Regions from separate parts of the Homo sapiens genome. Here all the other regions are linked to region 1. The links come from fine-mapping of genetic effects on gene expression. A gene starts in region 1. Each other region holds a variant in brackets. All regions are shown on one strand. Distances are between the middles of the regions.

Region 1 (5,221 bases):
CTGAGGGCCTCAAGGGCAGGAGAGAGCATATGACAAGGAGGAAAGAAATGCCATTTCCTTCTGGTCTCAGACTCTGCGTATCTTAGCTGGGAATATGCAGTTTGGTCATTTCAATCTCAACATTTTCAACACTAAGTTGCAGGAATTAGTTAATTCAACAAGTATTTGTTGAATAAGAATCCCTTATCCTCTTTCGTTCCTCTTTGTTACCCTTTGTTTCTCTCCAAGACTTTTCTCATCAGCATTTAAACATCCTCAAGGCTCTCTCATCTTAAAAACCGAACAAATAAAACCCCTACAAACAGAAGAATGTCCTTTGATCCGACTTCCTTCTCAGCTACCACCCTGTTCAGAACCAAATTTCACATACTACATGTCTTCTTTACCGTCTGTATTTCCTCCCTCCCAAGCCTTCCTCTGGCCACTCCTGTCCACTCCTGCCACTCACTGGAACAGAAGGCTTATGGAAAGAGCCCCACTTTTACAGAACACGAACCCCAGTATAAGGCAGCATTATAGCCCTTAAACACTGTGAAGTAATTTTGTGACATCTGTCTTTTCAACTGGAGTGTGGGCTTCTTGGGGGTAAGACATAGCTGGTAGTTACTCAGTAAAATATCTTACTGTTGAATGTTACATGTCTACTCCAGACATGGAGACTAGCATGAATAAATGTTAAACAAAACTTTGTTGAAGTAACAAAATAACTGAGATTGGAAACAAAAGGATGGGACAGGTTTGGAATGGCGTGAAATAATGAGTGAAAGTTCAATTATTCTGAGCTCAAGTTAGAAGTGTAGGAGAAGGAGGAGAGTGTGTTGTATTAAAAGCAAGGCAAAAAATAGTTTCAATGGGCAATGTTATATGTTAAATGCTACAAGCAAGTATATCATGTTTTTCAGACTGAACACTATTAGAGGCTACTTGATTTGCAAAACAATAATCAATTCTTTGGGGTGGAGATGGGGAGATTAGTTTCACTGGAATGTTACCAGGTTGAGAATATGAAGGAGCAGTAATTTGTAGGGTCCAGAAAATGCAAGGATCACAGCACAATTAATTTAGGTGGACAGTCAACAGAGTGGGCATACAGCAGGACCTTTAGGGTGGGCATACAACAGGAACTTTTGGGAGGTGAACAGTCCTATCTGCATGCTTCTCATCAATTCTACATTTTAATCCAGGCCATCTTATCCGTGAGGTTAAGGATCTCTAGAGAAAGAGAACTCTAGCATAAACTTTACTTAAATGTAAGCTAAACCCTTCACCCAAATGTTTTAATCATATGGATTTAAAATGTGAAATGACAAGTGGAAGTGACACGTAATTATGACCTTATTTTTTGAAACAGAGTCTCAATCTGTCACCCAGGCTGGAGTGCAATCACGGTTCACTGCAGCCTCAAACTCCCAGTCTCAAACGACCCTTCCACTTAAACGACCGAGTAGCTGGGACTACAGGTACGCGCCACCACACCCGCTATTTATTTTATTTTACTTTTCGTAGAAACAGGGTCTCACTGTGTTGCCCAGGCTGGTCTTGAACTCCTGGGCTCAAGTGACCCTCCCACTTCGGCCTCCCAAAGTGCTGTGATTACAGGCATGAGCCACCAAGCCCAGAGACTTTTCTTTCTTTCTTTCTTTTTTTTTTTTGAGACGGAGTCTCACTTTGTTGCCCAGGCTGGAGTGCACTGACATGATCTCAGCTCACTGCAAGGTCTGCCTCCCAGGTTCATTCCAGTCTCCTGCCTCAGCCTCCCGAGTAGCTGGGACTACAGGTGCCCGCCACCACGCCCGGCTAATTTTTGGTGTTTTTTTTTTTAGTAGAGACGGGGTTTCACCGTATTAGCCAGGATGGTCTCCATCTCCTGACCTCGTAGTACGCCCGCCTCGGCCTCCCAAAGTGCTGGGATTACAGGCGTGAGCCACCGCGCCCGGCCTCCCAGAGACTTTTCTATCTGATTACTTTTCAAACACATTCTAGAGCATCCTAGAACTTGTCCTTTCCTAGTTCAGTTTATTACTTTCTGCTCATGCTCCAGGAGAGAATATAGCTTTTAGTCATTTAGTCTCTATGTGGTCCTTCCTTGATTTTCTAAGGGTCCTGAGTCTGTGGTCCCAGAAATAGACAAAAACATGTGCAGGGCATCATAGACTCTTGCTAGGCTGGAAGTAGAGTTCCTCTCTTGTAGCCAATGTCCTCTTCTCCTCACCCTTCCACTCCCGAAATACACACACTCAATATACAGTGGCCAGCACATCTGTTTTATGGGACCAAGAAGCTGAATCCTAAAGGTTAATGAAGGAAAGATACGCAGAAAGTCCAGCACTTTCCTAATTCAGCAGCACACAGGTTTTCACGTCTAATATTTAATTTACGTAATTTATTTTCAATCTCAATTTAATTGCTTTTCTTGAAAAGATGTTTGGGACAAGGTCAACAATGAGGGAGGAATGTCACCGGGTCGGGATCTGGAAACAATCAGCTCTGTATGGTTTTAAAGATGAAGCGCCAAGATCTTAAGGAACCTGAATTCCTGGTGAGCAATCAAGTTCTTTAATCGGCCCCCAGCAGGATGTCAACGGCGTAAAAGACAAAAAGAAAATCTATTTTAAAAGATAGATTTTGTGTTTTTAGATTAATTTTTAAAAAGCGAACCCACCACAAACTTCCCAGTTTTTAAAGAAAAGGCCTCTCCCACCGCAGAGCCCTCCCGAACCATGGGACAGCTCAGCGGCAGCGTCCCACCGGCTGCCCGCAACCGGTGCCGCGAGCTCGGAGTGCAGCGCTGGGATCTCGCGTGCTCCGGGACAGCGGGCTCCTTGAGCGCCGCGGGGCGGGGCGTGGGGCAAGACCCGCCGGCCGCTCCCTTCCCCACAGCGCTTAGAGAAGCAGCGAGCGCCTTTCCTCCTGTCCCGGAGTCCTAGCCTGGCCCGAGCTACCTCCAGGGCGCCCGCTGCTGCGGTGGCAGGAAGTCCCCGGGAACTACAAATCGAGGCATGCTGGGAACATTCTCCCGCTCCTCCCAGGAAATGTCCTTTGTCCAGCCCTACAGGAAGCCCCAGTGAGGAGTCAGCCGGGCAGCCAGCCAGCGAGCCAGCCAGCCAGCCAGCCAGCCAGCCAGCCAACCAGCCAGCCAGCGGGCCACCCAGCGGCCGCTGCAGCCGCCGCCGCCGCACAAGGGCAGACGCGCTGCGGTGCGGGGCTCGGGCCGGGGCGCTCGGTGCCCTAGCTCCTCGCCGCGCCAGCCGCCTCGCAGGTAGGAGCGTGGCTGTGGCTGGGCTCAACCGCCTCCCGGGGATGGGGCTGATCGGGACCAGACCCGACCGCTGCGGGGATGGGGTGTGTGTTCGAGTGCGGTGGCGGAACGGCTGGGCGAAGTTGTGCCTCGTAAAGTGGACCGTTGTCCGCTCCCCTGGGGCGCAGGGCCCCGGGCTTATGGGGTGCTCTCGCGCCCCCAAAGCCAGGACTGAGCTCCCTCAGGGGTATGTGGCGAGGGGCGGGGAGGAGGAGGCTGAGACTTGAGGGAGGAGACAGCGATGCAAGAGGGAATAGGACCGTCCCGCCGACCACCGAAGGGGGCATCAGAGACCCTCGGAGAAACCAAGCCCAGGGAGGAGCTTGGAAGGCAAGGAGAAGGTGAAGGGCTTTGTGTGCAGCTGTGGACCTTGACGGACTGCGCTCCCCTTGCCTTGTCTGTTCGTGCCTCCAGCCCCACTGGGGCTAAGGGAGGGTGGGGGGCTCCGAGAAGGGCAGGAGAGAGGCGGCAGGTCATCTTGGGTCCTAGTGAATGAAATGTGTGCCTCCCTTTTCCTCTCTTCTCCATTCTAGCCCACTCAAATGAGCGGCTTTGGGGCTGCCATCAGACCGGGCAAATGACACAATAAGGACGGGTGGGTGGAGAGATGGGCAGCAGCTCGCAGCCCAAGAGGGGTGGCCGTCTAGCCCCGGGAGGCATTCCAACCACACGTGTCCATGTAGGTAGGTGGTGGGGTGGTGGGCAAAGCTGGAACCTGCACCTCGCGGGGATGCCGAGGCTCAGGATTGTGCATGGAGGCACGGGTGAGGCGCGTGTTGGGAGGAGTGGGTGAGTAAAAGGTTGAGGGGGAGCAGCGACACAGAGGCGCTGAGTGTACCTTATGGCCAATGTACATTATGGCCATGCATCGGGAACTGACTACCACTTCCTCTGGGACTTTCCACGATTTTCCTTTTTCCTAACCGCCTCCCCCAACCGCCCCCGCCCTGCCTCCCCCACAGGAGTGAATCACCCACCCCTTACTACATGAACCCTGGGCTGAATTGAAGTTGGTGATGTATCCCTGTCCTTGTAGTGGGCATGTTTGTCCTTAACCTGTAGGATGACACCAATACTCCGCATCCCCTACTGCGTTACCCTCCTCCCTCAAGACTGAGCGTCTGGTAAATGCGGTTGGATAATGGCTAGCGAGTTAAATGTCTTTGAGTAGCTGTGGTGGATGAGTGGGCAACTTTGAATACAGTCCAAGTGTGACTGTTGTAACTGAACTCAGCATGCCTAAGGGGCCACACTCACTATCTCTCCTTTCTCCCCTCACCTGATTTTTTGTTGATGCCCCCAACTGTTTACCTTCTTCTCTCAACAAGCCAACATGTGGATATTATTTAATGTGGAATACGTTTGAGGAACCAAATGAACCTTTAAGAATGCCACTTATATGGCCAGGCAGGAGTATGCAAGGCTCATGGTCGAAAGAATGATGCTGTAGGACATGGAGAGAGCCCTGAGCCTGATATAAATGGCTTTCGAGGTGAAACAAAACATTTCTTCCTTAGCTTCTTTGGGAGAGATGAGGCATTTGAACTGAGATAAAGAATGGAATCGAGAAAAAAAACCGAGTTGTTTAGGATGAGGCCATGAGGATAATGAAGTGAAGGGAAGAGGCTCTGTGAATTTAGATGATTTCTAGTTAGAACATATTGGCCGTGTGTGTGTGTGTGTGTGTGTGTGTGTGTGTGTGTGTGTGTTGGAAGTGGGGGTTGTTGTTAAGGGAAAGTTGATGTCAAAAGTTCAGCCATGCCCAACAGAGAATAAGATGGCATCCTATTGAACAAGATCATAAATATGAAGTCAGGCTGCCCTTTACATTACACAAAGGAACACATAGATGGCTTTTCAGAACTACTGGGATAGAGGGGTAAATGGATGCTAGTCAGACAGAAGAACCGGCTGGATTGATGC
Region 2 (5,221 bases), 43 kb after region 1:
CAAGTAAGGATGTTGAAAATTATAATGTGACATCAATACCATTAAAGGCAGATTATTGAAAAACTAAAAAATCAGGAAGATATACTCTGAGAATATGGACAGTCCTGGTTCTTTGGCAAAAAAGGGCAGTAGAAGAATTTACATCACACACACAGACACCCATATACAGTTGTATATAAGCAATATACACTCTTAAATATACTGTTGAATATACATGCAATTGCTGGTATTTTTCTCATTTTGAGTGGACTGGTAAAACTTTGTCACCAGGACCATTCCTGGAGTCATTGAGCGAACAGTGGCTTGTGGGGAGATGCTGGAAACCCACACTCTTTTCCTGATTGTGCATTCCCTGGGAAAGCTGCTTCCAATTCTGGCTGTGACTCTGTTTACCTGGTTATGTAAAGTCGGGGTGATAAACCTTCCTTTAAACCCTGCCCTGGCGTTTCCTGTGGAGCCTGGTGGAGGACTGGGGAGAGGAGTGTGCCCTCTGCTGGTAACACCTGTACTGGGAGGACCTTGCCGCCTCCCCTGAGCTGTGTGGAAGTGTAGCTCATGGAGGTGTTCGGAGTGCCTTCCCTTGAAGAAGGAAGGAATTTCCTAGGCAAAGGATTATTATTTTTTCTTATTTTTTTTTATTCTTGGCCCTGTTTAAAGTCTCTGTGGAATTTGAGTTTCTGGAGAGACAGCCTCATGTTTTCAACAATTAATCTGGTGGCAGAGAAAATGCGGAAGTAGTTTACCTTCAAGGGGGAAATGACCAACATTGTGAAATATTTTCTAAGTCTTGGAGTGATAATGGTTTAGGAAACAGATGCCTCTAACACTTCCCCTGTCATTTTACCTTTCTTGTTGTTGGGAGCTGTGGAGAGTTAATAATTCAAATGAAACACTGGTTACTCTTAACACCCTCCTCACACTGTAGAGGTACTTAAAGGTATGCGTAAGTAGAAACTGGAAAGGTTTTTTTTTTTTGAGATGGTGCTGGAGACCCAAAAGCAATTAGTTGCTTTAGAAAAGGTGTCAGAGTAGACTGAATGTGGAGGGCTAGGCCAGTGGTGGGGTGCTGTGGTGCTGAAGAGACTGGGCTCTGGGAATCAGAGGGTGAGACTGCATGACGAGATTCCTTAAGGGAATGTGTCTGAATTTAAAGTAGTTTGGAAAGCTGCAATTCGGAAAGACCACCAAGACTTTAAGGGATGAGGATTGAATGAAGGTGCATGTTGGACACCTGGCTGGGAATGGCTCTGTAATAGCAGGCCCTGTGGCGAGCTGAAGAGACTGTGTATTCTGGACACTGGGAAACCCTTTTTCTTAAGAAAATATTGTGAGAAAGCATGTGCTGGATAATTCAGTCCTGACAGACCTCTGTGGACCAACTTTACTAATTCTCTCGAGAGAACTTCTTTGAGGTGGGCAGGAGGGCTCTGAATGTTCTTGATATGGGAGTGCTGGGAAGGGAAGAGCATGGTCCCTTTAAATGATATGGGAGGGGGGAAGGGAAGTGCTGGGTGAAGGAGGGTGTGGTCCCTGGCTATGGCTCTACTCCCAGGGACCTAGATGAGGACAAACATTTTCTGCCCAAATGTTGCATTTCCCAAGACCACCCTGGCCTGCCATGCCCCAATTCTCTGCCTATAAAACCCCCAAGACCCTAGCAGGACACACACAAACTGCCTGACAATGAGAGGAGCAGATTGGCAGAAGAAGATAGAAGGGGCTGGATGTCAGGAGGGGCACATCAGTGGAGGCACACATCAGCAGAGGAACACATGGGCAGCTGGACGTTGGGAGGAACACACCGCCCAGCAGAATGATGTGGAGTTTCCCTGGGATGGTCGGAGAAGAGTTGGGCAGTTGAACGGCCAACTCCATGGGAAAACCCTCCCCTTCTGGCATCCCCCAGCTGCTGAGAGCTACCTTCACTCAACAAAACCTGGCACTCATTCTCCAAGCCCAGGTGTGATCTAATTTCTCTGGTAACCAAAACAAGAACCCAGGATACAGAAAGCCCTCTGACCTTCC[G/A]ACAAGGTAGAGGGTCTAATTTAGCTGGTTAAAACAAGCCGCCTGTAGATGTCAAAACTAAAAGAGCAAGACTAAAAGAGCACCATGTAACACACACCCACTGAGGCTTCAGGAGCTGTAAACATTCACCCCAGACACTGCTATGGTGTCGGAGTCCCACAGCCTGCCTGTCTCTATGCTCCCACAGAGGTTTGAGCAGTGAGGCATTGAAGAAGCAAGCCACACCCTCATTGCATGCCTGGTGAGGGGGATGAGGGAATTTTTCCCATTTCATTATCATAAGCCTACGCACAAGGTGACTTGTGTGTAGCACAATGATGACTATGGTGGCACCTGGAAGGTTTGATTCTGTCCCATAGAGGGATATCAAGAGTCTGAAGTTGGAATTTAGTTGACTTTTGATTGAAGCCACTATAGAAAGAGTGTCCACAGCCTTTGGAGTCACACAGGGGTGAGTTTAAAGTCTAACTCTCCTATTTACTTACTTACCTGGGGGGGCCTTGGACAAGTTACTTGCCATCTGTAGCACTGGTTTCCTCATGTAAAAAACTGAAGATAGCAGCTTTGAACTCCCCCAGTTGGTAGTGATCAGCAAAGACACTTGGTCCAGAGCATAGCAGGTGTTCAGTGGAGAGACTTCTTTTCCCTTCCTGTCCTTCTTTGTGATCCTTAATTCCCCACCTTGCTTCATCTCCTCCCCAGGCTACTGTACGTTTCACATTGATGTTCATGATGGACTCTCTGTGAGTGACACCGATGATGTCTATGATGGAGGTGGTGTGGATGATGACCGACATGTCCTGGCAGGCTCTCTTCAGGCATGACTCATCCAGAATGTCTCCTTCCAGCACCGTCAGCTTGGTCTTGTTCTGGAGCTCTGTGTGAACACCGGTCAGGTTATCAGAACGATTTCTGAAACGATTTCTGAAACTGATAAAGATGTTGTTACATAGATGTTCGAGGATGGCTAGAGTCAGGGTGTTGGAGTGGAGGGTGTACATTCCATGGAAGGAACAAGTAAACAGGGACACAGAAGTCAGAATATGTAGCAATTTATTGGGAAAGAGCAAACATCTGTTTCTACCCCATCTCATTTAAGAAAAGTAATCTGAGCAATGAGCTGTCAGGTGTGCTTGGAATATAAGCATTTCTAGAGTCATGGGAGACTCACTAAAATATTTAAAGAGAGTAAGGTGACTGTGGAGAGTTGGGTATAAGAGGGAAAATTTGAATTTAATTCTGCTGGTGATGCGGGATCATGATTTTGGGTCTCCAGCACCATGTCAAAGAAAATCCCTTATTTATATTTGGAATAAGTAGAGAAACAGGCAGAGCATGGTGGCTGACACCTGTAATTCCAGCACTTTGGGAGGCTGAGGTGGGCAGATTGCTTGCACCCAGGAGGTCAAGACCAGCCTGGACAGCCTCGTGAAACCCCGTCTCTACTAAAAACACAAAAATTAGCCAGGCGTAGTGGTGCTTGCCCATAGTCCCAGCTGTTCGGGAGGCTGAAGCAGGAGGATGAATGGGGCCCAGGAGGTGAAGGTGGCAGTGAGCAGAGATCATACCTCTGCACTCCAGCCTTGGTGGCACAGCCAAACCCTGTTAATAAAAAAAGAGAGACAGAGAAACAGAAGCAGAATTGTAATGTAGGAAGTCAACATTGGCTTGAGGATATAAAATGGACTGGTATAGGGGATATGAGAAAGTAAGGTAATTAAGATATTAATCAGAGTATCTGTGCCAAAGTTTCGATGAGGACTGGAAGCAGGGTCCAGCAGTGGAAGCAGAGCAGGGGAGAGATAAAACAGGTTTGAATTTCAGACCTTACCTTGAAGGTCCTGATACCTACTGGATCTGGGCTGAGAGAAAAAGAAGACAAAATCACCCCTATGGTTTCCTCCTTGGGCAATTGGGAGGAGAGTGGAGCCATTACTAGGGAATTGCTGATGGGCTTAAATGAGGAATTTCCATGAAAAACTCATCAGATTTGAAAAGCAGATAGCAATGCTGAAAGTTAGCGACCAATGAACTGATATTCCAGCTGTCTAGCTGAGGGCAGTGGTTAAAACTTTAATGTCTTCACGCTCCTCTGAAATCCACAAGAAGTGATGCTGCCAGTAAAGTTGTCACCTGGAATTAGCCCACGCAATGAACACTGTGGTACATGAAGCTTGGATAAATACACTACACTTGTTTGTGCTTTATAATCTGCATATGACTCACAGCTTGCTTATTTCCTTTTACAGCAATCTCATGAGATAGGTTTTCTGAGTCCCACTTTACTGGTGAGGAAACTGAGGTTCAGAGAGGTTAAGGGACAGATCAAAGGTCGCGTTTCTAGTAGAGGCTCAAACTTGCCCACTCCACCTCCAAGCCTCGTACCCTGCACACCAGGTACAGGACTGGCTGTTTAGAATAAACTTTTCTGAGAAAGAGTAAGAATAAGCCAGTTCAACTGAAATTGGCAACAAAGGCCAAAGAACAGTGAGAGTAAAATTCAGAGCGAAAAATTCAAGACCGGAGCAATTCCTTCCTGGGATACAGGCGGGACCACTTCCTCTCCTAATGCCTCTGCCATGTTTTGTCTACTCCCAGCCCCTTCCTATTGCCAGGCAACTCCAAGAAGGCCATGCTATGGGGGAGGCAGGGAAGAGGCTGCTGGGGAGGACATGGGTGACAGCCTGAGAGTGGAATTTTCTCTGGTTGTATTTCCACCTCTGCACTTCCTGCTCCCTTCCTCTGCTTCCCCTTTGCTGCCAACTTCAGACAGACTGGCTCAAAGGAATTGCCATTTCAAAGCTGAAGAAGTCTAAAGCCAAGAGAAAAGGCTTTTCCTTAATGAGTTCACAGGGATCTAGAGACCAGGAAAGGGGACTTTGTGGATGGAGCCATAGCTCCCTCATTCCCCAAGCTGCTAGGTGAACTACTGCTTAAGAGCACAGATGCCGCACTAGACTGTCTGGGTTCAAATCCAGCTTTGCCATATTCTAACTCTGAGACTTTCAACGAGTTAATTAACCTCTCTATGTCTGTCTCCTAATCTGTGAGAAAGGAGGATAATAATATTAACAATCTCATAGGGTTGCTATGAGTAACAAATGAGTCAGCACATGCAAAACATGTAGCACAGTGCCTGGCACAGAAAGAACACTGAAAGGATTCTCTGTTTTTATCTTTATACAGGCTACTGCCC
Region 3 (5,221 bases), 24 kb after region 1:
GCTTCTAATATAGAGGGTCCCCTGTACCTCTTTTTCTTGGCCCCACCAGGCCTACTTGAATCATCTTGGCTCATTCCTCCCTGCAAAGTAGATCCTCACTACAAAAGCCAGGTTGGTGGTGCTGTTGGTGACATGGTCTTAGACAAGAAGTTACTATACTTGATGCTTCTATTATTCTTGTGTCTTGATGTACTTTTCCTCTGGCTCCTTAAATTAGCCAAAATACTTGCACGATAACCAAAATACTTGCAAGGTTGCTGTGGGCTGGAGGCGAGCAAGCTTAATAAGAGTATGAAAAGCATGGAACTTTGAGGCAGCCCAATTGCTTAATCCCCACTCTACTGCTTATAAGTTTATGTAGCCTTGGGCTAGTGGCCTCTTCTTTTTGAGTTTCAAGTTTTCTCAGCTGTAAAAATGGGAACATCTAGTTCACTGTTAAACTATAAAACCACACTAATAGACATCCATATCATAGCCAGAAGATCAAGATTTGGTCCAGTGAGAGTTGGCATCCAACCTCATAGTGAGGTTGTCACTGTTCTTCTGCCACCCAGTCCACCCTCCTTTGCACTCACTTGTTTACTTTAAAATGTGGAGTGAAGTGGAGGTTTGCCATCTGGGGCTTGGAACTCCATACATTTTATTAGAATTGGAAATTAAGGCTGGGCGTGGTGAGGGGATGAGACCGGACTGACGTGACCTTTCTTTGTGTTTTTCTGGAGCAGGGATTCCTGGTCACCTCCCTTGCTCTTTTCTTCCTGGATGAAACAAGAAGATAATCAGGGTGTCTGTGCACACCAGGACTCAGAAGACAAAGGGATGGGTTCTGATTTTGAGGACTCTGAGGACAGGGAAGGGGACCCAGAAGAAAGAGAAATGGGCTCTAATCCACATGACACAAACAAGAGAGAAGGCCATCCGGAGCCGGAGATGGGCTCCAACCCACAGGACTCAAGGCACAGGGAAGCAGTGCCCGACATCTGCACAGGTGAGGAGAAAGCTGGGATTTCTATGCAAGTTGCCAAAGTTACACTTACTTCTAGCTCCTCTAGAATCATAACTAGCGACAGCATTCTCTGTAAGGGAGTTCCATAGAGGGGACCATTAAGCAGGATTCTGTACTGACTTGCCTCTCTTGTGTTAGCCTGAAGACCATCCTTTTTTTCAGCCCAGTCTGAGGTGAGCTGTGAAGAGGCTCACTCACTGGCGCAGTACTTTTTACAGTGTAGAGAATGCTGCTATAAATTAACCCCTGGAACAACACTACAGTAGAATTACCCAGCTAGTAATAGAATCTACCTCACAGTGTTATTGGGAGAGTTAAATGAGTTGCTGCATATAGAGTTACTAAGCACAGTACTGTGCAAATAGGAGGTATCCAGATGTTTACAGTTACGTCCTCATCTCCCTTTGCAGATAAGTCATCTCACTGGTAAGTGACCTGCCTAGGTTCATGTGGCTAATTCCCAAAGTGCCCATGGCCTCTGCTAAATGCCTTACTCTTACTGACCTGAAAGAGTGAATGCTGGGCCTCCACCCACCTCCTTGTTTCTGTCTTTGGGCATTCATTACTTTATCCTGCTCAGTGCATGCTCTGGGGACAGAAATGAGCTAAAATACTTTATGGCCAGGACTGAGAGGTTACATTCCTTCCCCTGTGACACAGTCCCAGACTCCCTGCTGCCCTCCTCCGCAGTGCACAGAAGCATGTGCAGGAGGGCACATGTGAGGCCTTTCACATCTCAGCAACTTCCCTCTGCTTGGGGATACGCAGCCAGAGACCAACAGGTGTGTGTCCTGGATCAGCCTCTAACCTGGGCTCACCAGCTCTAGGCTCTGTAATCTCTTTCTCTATTCCCCACTACTATCCCCCTCCCCCCACCCATAGCAAAGTCCTGAAGGTGAGTTCAGTTTTTTGTTCCATCATAAGCTGTTTCAGACTGACCAAATGTACTTTAAAAATTAGTCCTGAGGGCTGGGCGCAGTGGCTCATGCCTGTAATCCCAGCTCTTTGGGAGCCGAGGTGGGCAGAAAACGAGGTCAGGAGATCGAGACCAGCCCGACCAACATGGTGAAACCCCATGTCTACTAAAAATACAAGTTAGCTGGGCGTGGTGGCATGAGCCTGTAATCCCAGCTACTCAGGAGGCTGAGACAGGAGAATCGCTTGAACCCAGGAGGCGGAGGTTGCAGTGAGCCAAGATTGCGCCACTGCACTCCAGCCTGGACGACAGAGCAAGACTCTGTCTCAAAAATAAAAAGAGAAAAAGAAAAAATTAGTCCAGGGCCTGGTTAGGCCAAGTGGTCTTTCTCAGGTTGGCAGACTGTTCTTGTCTTTTGAGACTAGAATCTTAAAAGGCATTGGTAGCTCTTGGAGTGAGTAAACCTTTTCTCCTGAGATCTTACGTAGTGTCCCACCTGGCACAGACTTGAATATCCTGAACACAGGCAGTCAGGCCTTCAGATGGCTCTGCTAGGCAGTGCCTCGGGTCCAGCTAGGGGGGCCTGGGCCCGAGGAGGCTGCCTGAAGAACTGGTGGGCAGAGGGGGCAATGAGTGCACTCTCCTTTAGGCCTTTCCCTGGAGGATCCAGTTGAGAGAGGCTAAACTCTCAGGGGGTCTTGGAGGGGCAGGGATCCAGAGTGCCTGAGGGAGGGGATCACAGTTTTATTACTGAGGTTTCCTCTGGGCTTATCTTTTGAATGCCAAGTATAGTAATCCCCCACTGCCACCTTTTTCTGTTGCAGAGGGGCAGCTGAGTGAGGAAGAAGGCGTTTCTGTCCGTGGGGAAGAGGATGACCAATCCGGTGTAGCTGACATGGCGATGTTCCCAGGACTGTCTGAGTCTGACAGCATATCCCGGAGCCTCCGGGAGGACGACGACGAGAGTGCTGGGGAGAACCGGCTGGAGGAGGAAGAGGAGCAGCCGGCCCCTCCCGTACTTCCCTGGAGGCGACATCTCTCCCTGGGGAGTCGGCACCGAGGTGACAAGCCCGCCCACCGCCGCTTCCACCGGCTCCACCACCCCATGGC[C/G]GTGGACCTCGGGGAGCTGGATAGCCTGGTGGCCAGCATCATGGACGCGCCCACCATCTGCCCCGACTGCGGGGAGAGCTTCAGTCCTGGCGCCGCCTTCCTGCAGCACCAGCGCATTCACCGCCTGGCTGAGGCCGCTGCCGCCGCCAGCCTGGAGCCCTTCGGCCTGGCGGGCGAGTGCGACGCGATGGTGGGCATGATGGGGGTGGGTGTGGCGGGGGGCTTCGGGGCCGGGCCCCCGCTGGCCCGGCCCCCGCGCGAAAAGCCCTTCCGCTGCGGGGAGTGCGGCAAGGGCTTCAGCCGCAACACCTACCTGACCAACCACCTGCGCCTGCACACGGGCGAGCGGCCCAACCTGTGCGCCGACTGCGGCAAGAGCTTCAGCTGGCGCGCCGACCTGCTCAAGCACCGGCGCCTGCACACGGGCGAGAAGCCCTACCCGTGCCCCGAGTGCGGCGAGGCCTTCAGCCTCAGCTCGCATCTGTTGAGCCACCGGCGCGCGCACGCGGCGGCCAGCGGCGCGGGGGCGGCGGCGCTGCGGCCCTTCGCCTGCGGGGAGTGCGGCAAGGGCTTCGTGCGCCGTTCGCACCTGGCCAACCACCAGCGCATCCACACGGGCGAGAAGCCGCACGGCTGTGGCGAGTGCGGCAAGCGCTTCAGCTGGCGCTCGGACTTGGTGAAGCACCAGCGCGTGCACACGGGCGAGAAGCCCTACATGTGCTCCGAGTGCGGCGAGACCTTCAGCGTCAGCTCGCACCTCTTCACGCACAAGCGCACGCACTCGGGTGAGCGGCCCTACGTGTGCCGCGAGTGCGGGAAGGGCTTCGGGCGTAACTCGCACCTGGTGAACCACCTGCGCGTGCACACCGGCGAGAAGCCCTTCCGCTGTGGCCAGTGCGAGAAGCGCTTCAGCGACTTCTCCACGCTCACGCAGCACCAGCGCACGCACACGGGCGAGAAGCCCTACACGTGCATCGAGTGCGGCAAGAGCTTTATCCAGAGCTCCCACCTGATCCGCCACCGCCGCATCCACACGGGCAACAAGCCGCACAAGTGTGCGGGCTGCGGCAAAGGCTTCCGCTATAAAACGCACCTCGCGCAGCACCAGAAGCTGCACCTGTGTTAGGGGCTGGGTCCGCGGGAGGCTGCCGTCTGGGGAGCCTGTGGGGGGTAGATATCCTGGGACTGACCCAGGGGAAGGAAGTGGGGAAGGGGCGGGAGGGACAATCTGAGAGTGACTGGGGAGCCTTTGGTGTTTGGGGTTTCCTGAAGTGGGAGGAGTGTTGAGTAAGTTGGTCTTTCCCGGTGCTATACTTGCCTCCTCTCCACGGAAGAATTGTTCAGGAGATGCGCTTGGGGTGATGACTTCCTTAAATACACGCTGTAGGGGGTGAAGAGCTTGGAGGACCAGGCACTTTGAGGAAGGGCAGTTCGTGGGCTGGGGTGGGAACAGGATGGCGGGCAATAGACTAGGGTAGGCCGCGATGGCCTGTAGAAGGTTGCGGGGAGAGGGTTTAAATGAGGGTTATGGGGCGAAATAAAACCAAGTATAAGTGATTCTATCTTGGTCCCACCAAGAGTTTGCCCGATCTCCACACATCACCTGTTGTCTCACAAAAAGTAGGGGAACCTTGTCAGTCACATAGGACAGGATATTTAATGTACTTTTCCTTTCTCTGAGCCACAGTTAGCTGCTATTTTGAGGCATCCAAGGGGAAGTGGGCTGAAAAACGCCACACTCATTTCAAGGGGCAATGTCTGGGGTTTAGAAATTCATTTATAACTGGTTCTCTGATGTGGGAAATCCTGATTCTGTCCCGGGTTCTTTGCTACTTCCTTGAAAATACTCTAGCTTCATGCTGGGTCAAGGTGGTTTACCTGGATGACCCCCCTCCCCCGCCCTCGCCCATCCCAGGTGTGTGCCACACCCAGTATTTCTTTCAGGTCTCAACTGTGGTGTTTTAAGTGCAGGGAAAAGGAACAATCACAGCTATGTGTGACTTTCCTTTTCCCACCTCACCTTGATGTAGGTGTTTCAAGTGAACTTTAGACCAACAGTTGCCCAGTGACCTGCTAAAAAGTCAACTAGCTCAGAGTTTTGCTGGCCTTTATGTGAGAAATCCAAGAAAGTGTTCACTTTTTTGGGATGCGAGACTCCTTGGTCTCATTTGCCTTCACTTTGCATTTGT

Direction of the effects. Positions count from the first base shown, and alleles are read on the strand shown. Sizes are in standard deviations (SD) of each study's normalised expression.
In carriers of allele G in region 2, the expression in prefrontal cortex of the gene that starts at base 3,064 in region 1 tends to be higher than with A alone (small effect, 0.30 SD a copy in ROSMAP).
As copies of C replace G in region 3, the expression in prefrontal cortex of the gene that starts at base 3,064 in region 1 goes up (moderate effect, 0.45 SD a copy in GTEx).

What was found. PIP is the estimated chance that this variant, and not a neighbour inherited with it, causes the effect.
Region 2: its variant is the best candidate, but not a certain one, in a credible set for the expression of ZNF697 in prefrontal cortex (ROSMAP, PIP 0.65).
Region 3: its variant is the best candidate, but not a certain one, in a credible set for the expression of ZNF697 in prefrontal cortex (GTEx, PIP 0.53).

What each region holds. Positions count from the first base shown.
Region 1 is chr1:119,646,109-119,651,329 of GRCh38, reverse strand. It overlaps ZNF697 (zinc finger protein 697), which reads left to right and starts at 3,064. Exons shown (of 3, transcript NM_001080470.2): 1 at 3,064-3,639. LOC124904389 (a long non-coding RNA gene) reads right to left here and starts at 3,014. Exons shown (of 2, transcript XR_007066506.1): 1 at 2,943-3,014; 2 at 2,354-2,606. RefSeq lists enhancers at 2,987-3,056, 2,228-3,068 and silencers at 3,127-3,186, 3,484-3,647.
Region 2 is chr1:119,602,895-119,608,115 of GRCh38, reverse strand. It overlaps the pseudogene HSD3BP5. Among named protein-coding and RNA genes, the nearest start is that of LINC00622, 6.2 kb to the right of the region's middle. RefSeq lists an enhancer at 2,204-3,403. The variant G/A (reference allele first, on the strand shown) is at 2,026.
Region 3 is chr1:119,621,642-119,626,862 of GRCh38, reverse strand. ZNF697 (zinc finger protein 697) reads left to right here. Exons shown (of 3, transcript NM_001080470.2): 2 at 726-988; 3 at 2,747-5,221. The coding sequence starts at 763. The coding sequence ends at 4,158. Among named protein-coding and RNA genes, the nearest start is that of ZNF697, 24 kb to the left of the region's middle. The variant C/G (reference allele first, on the strand shown) is at 3,033.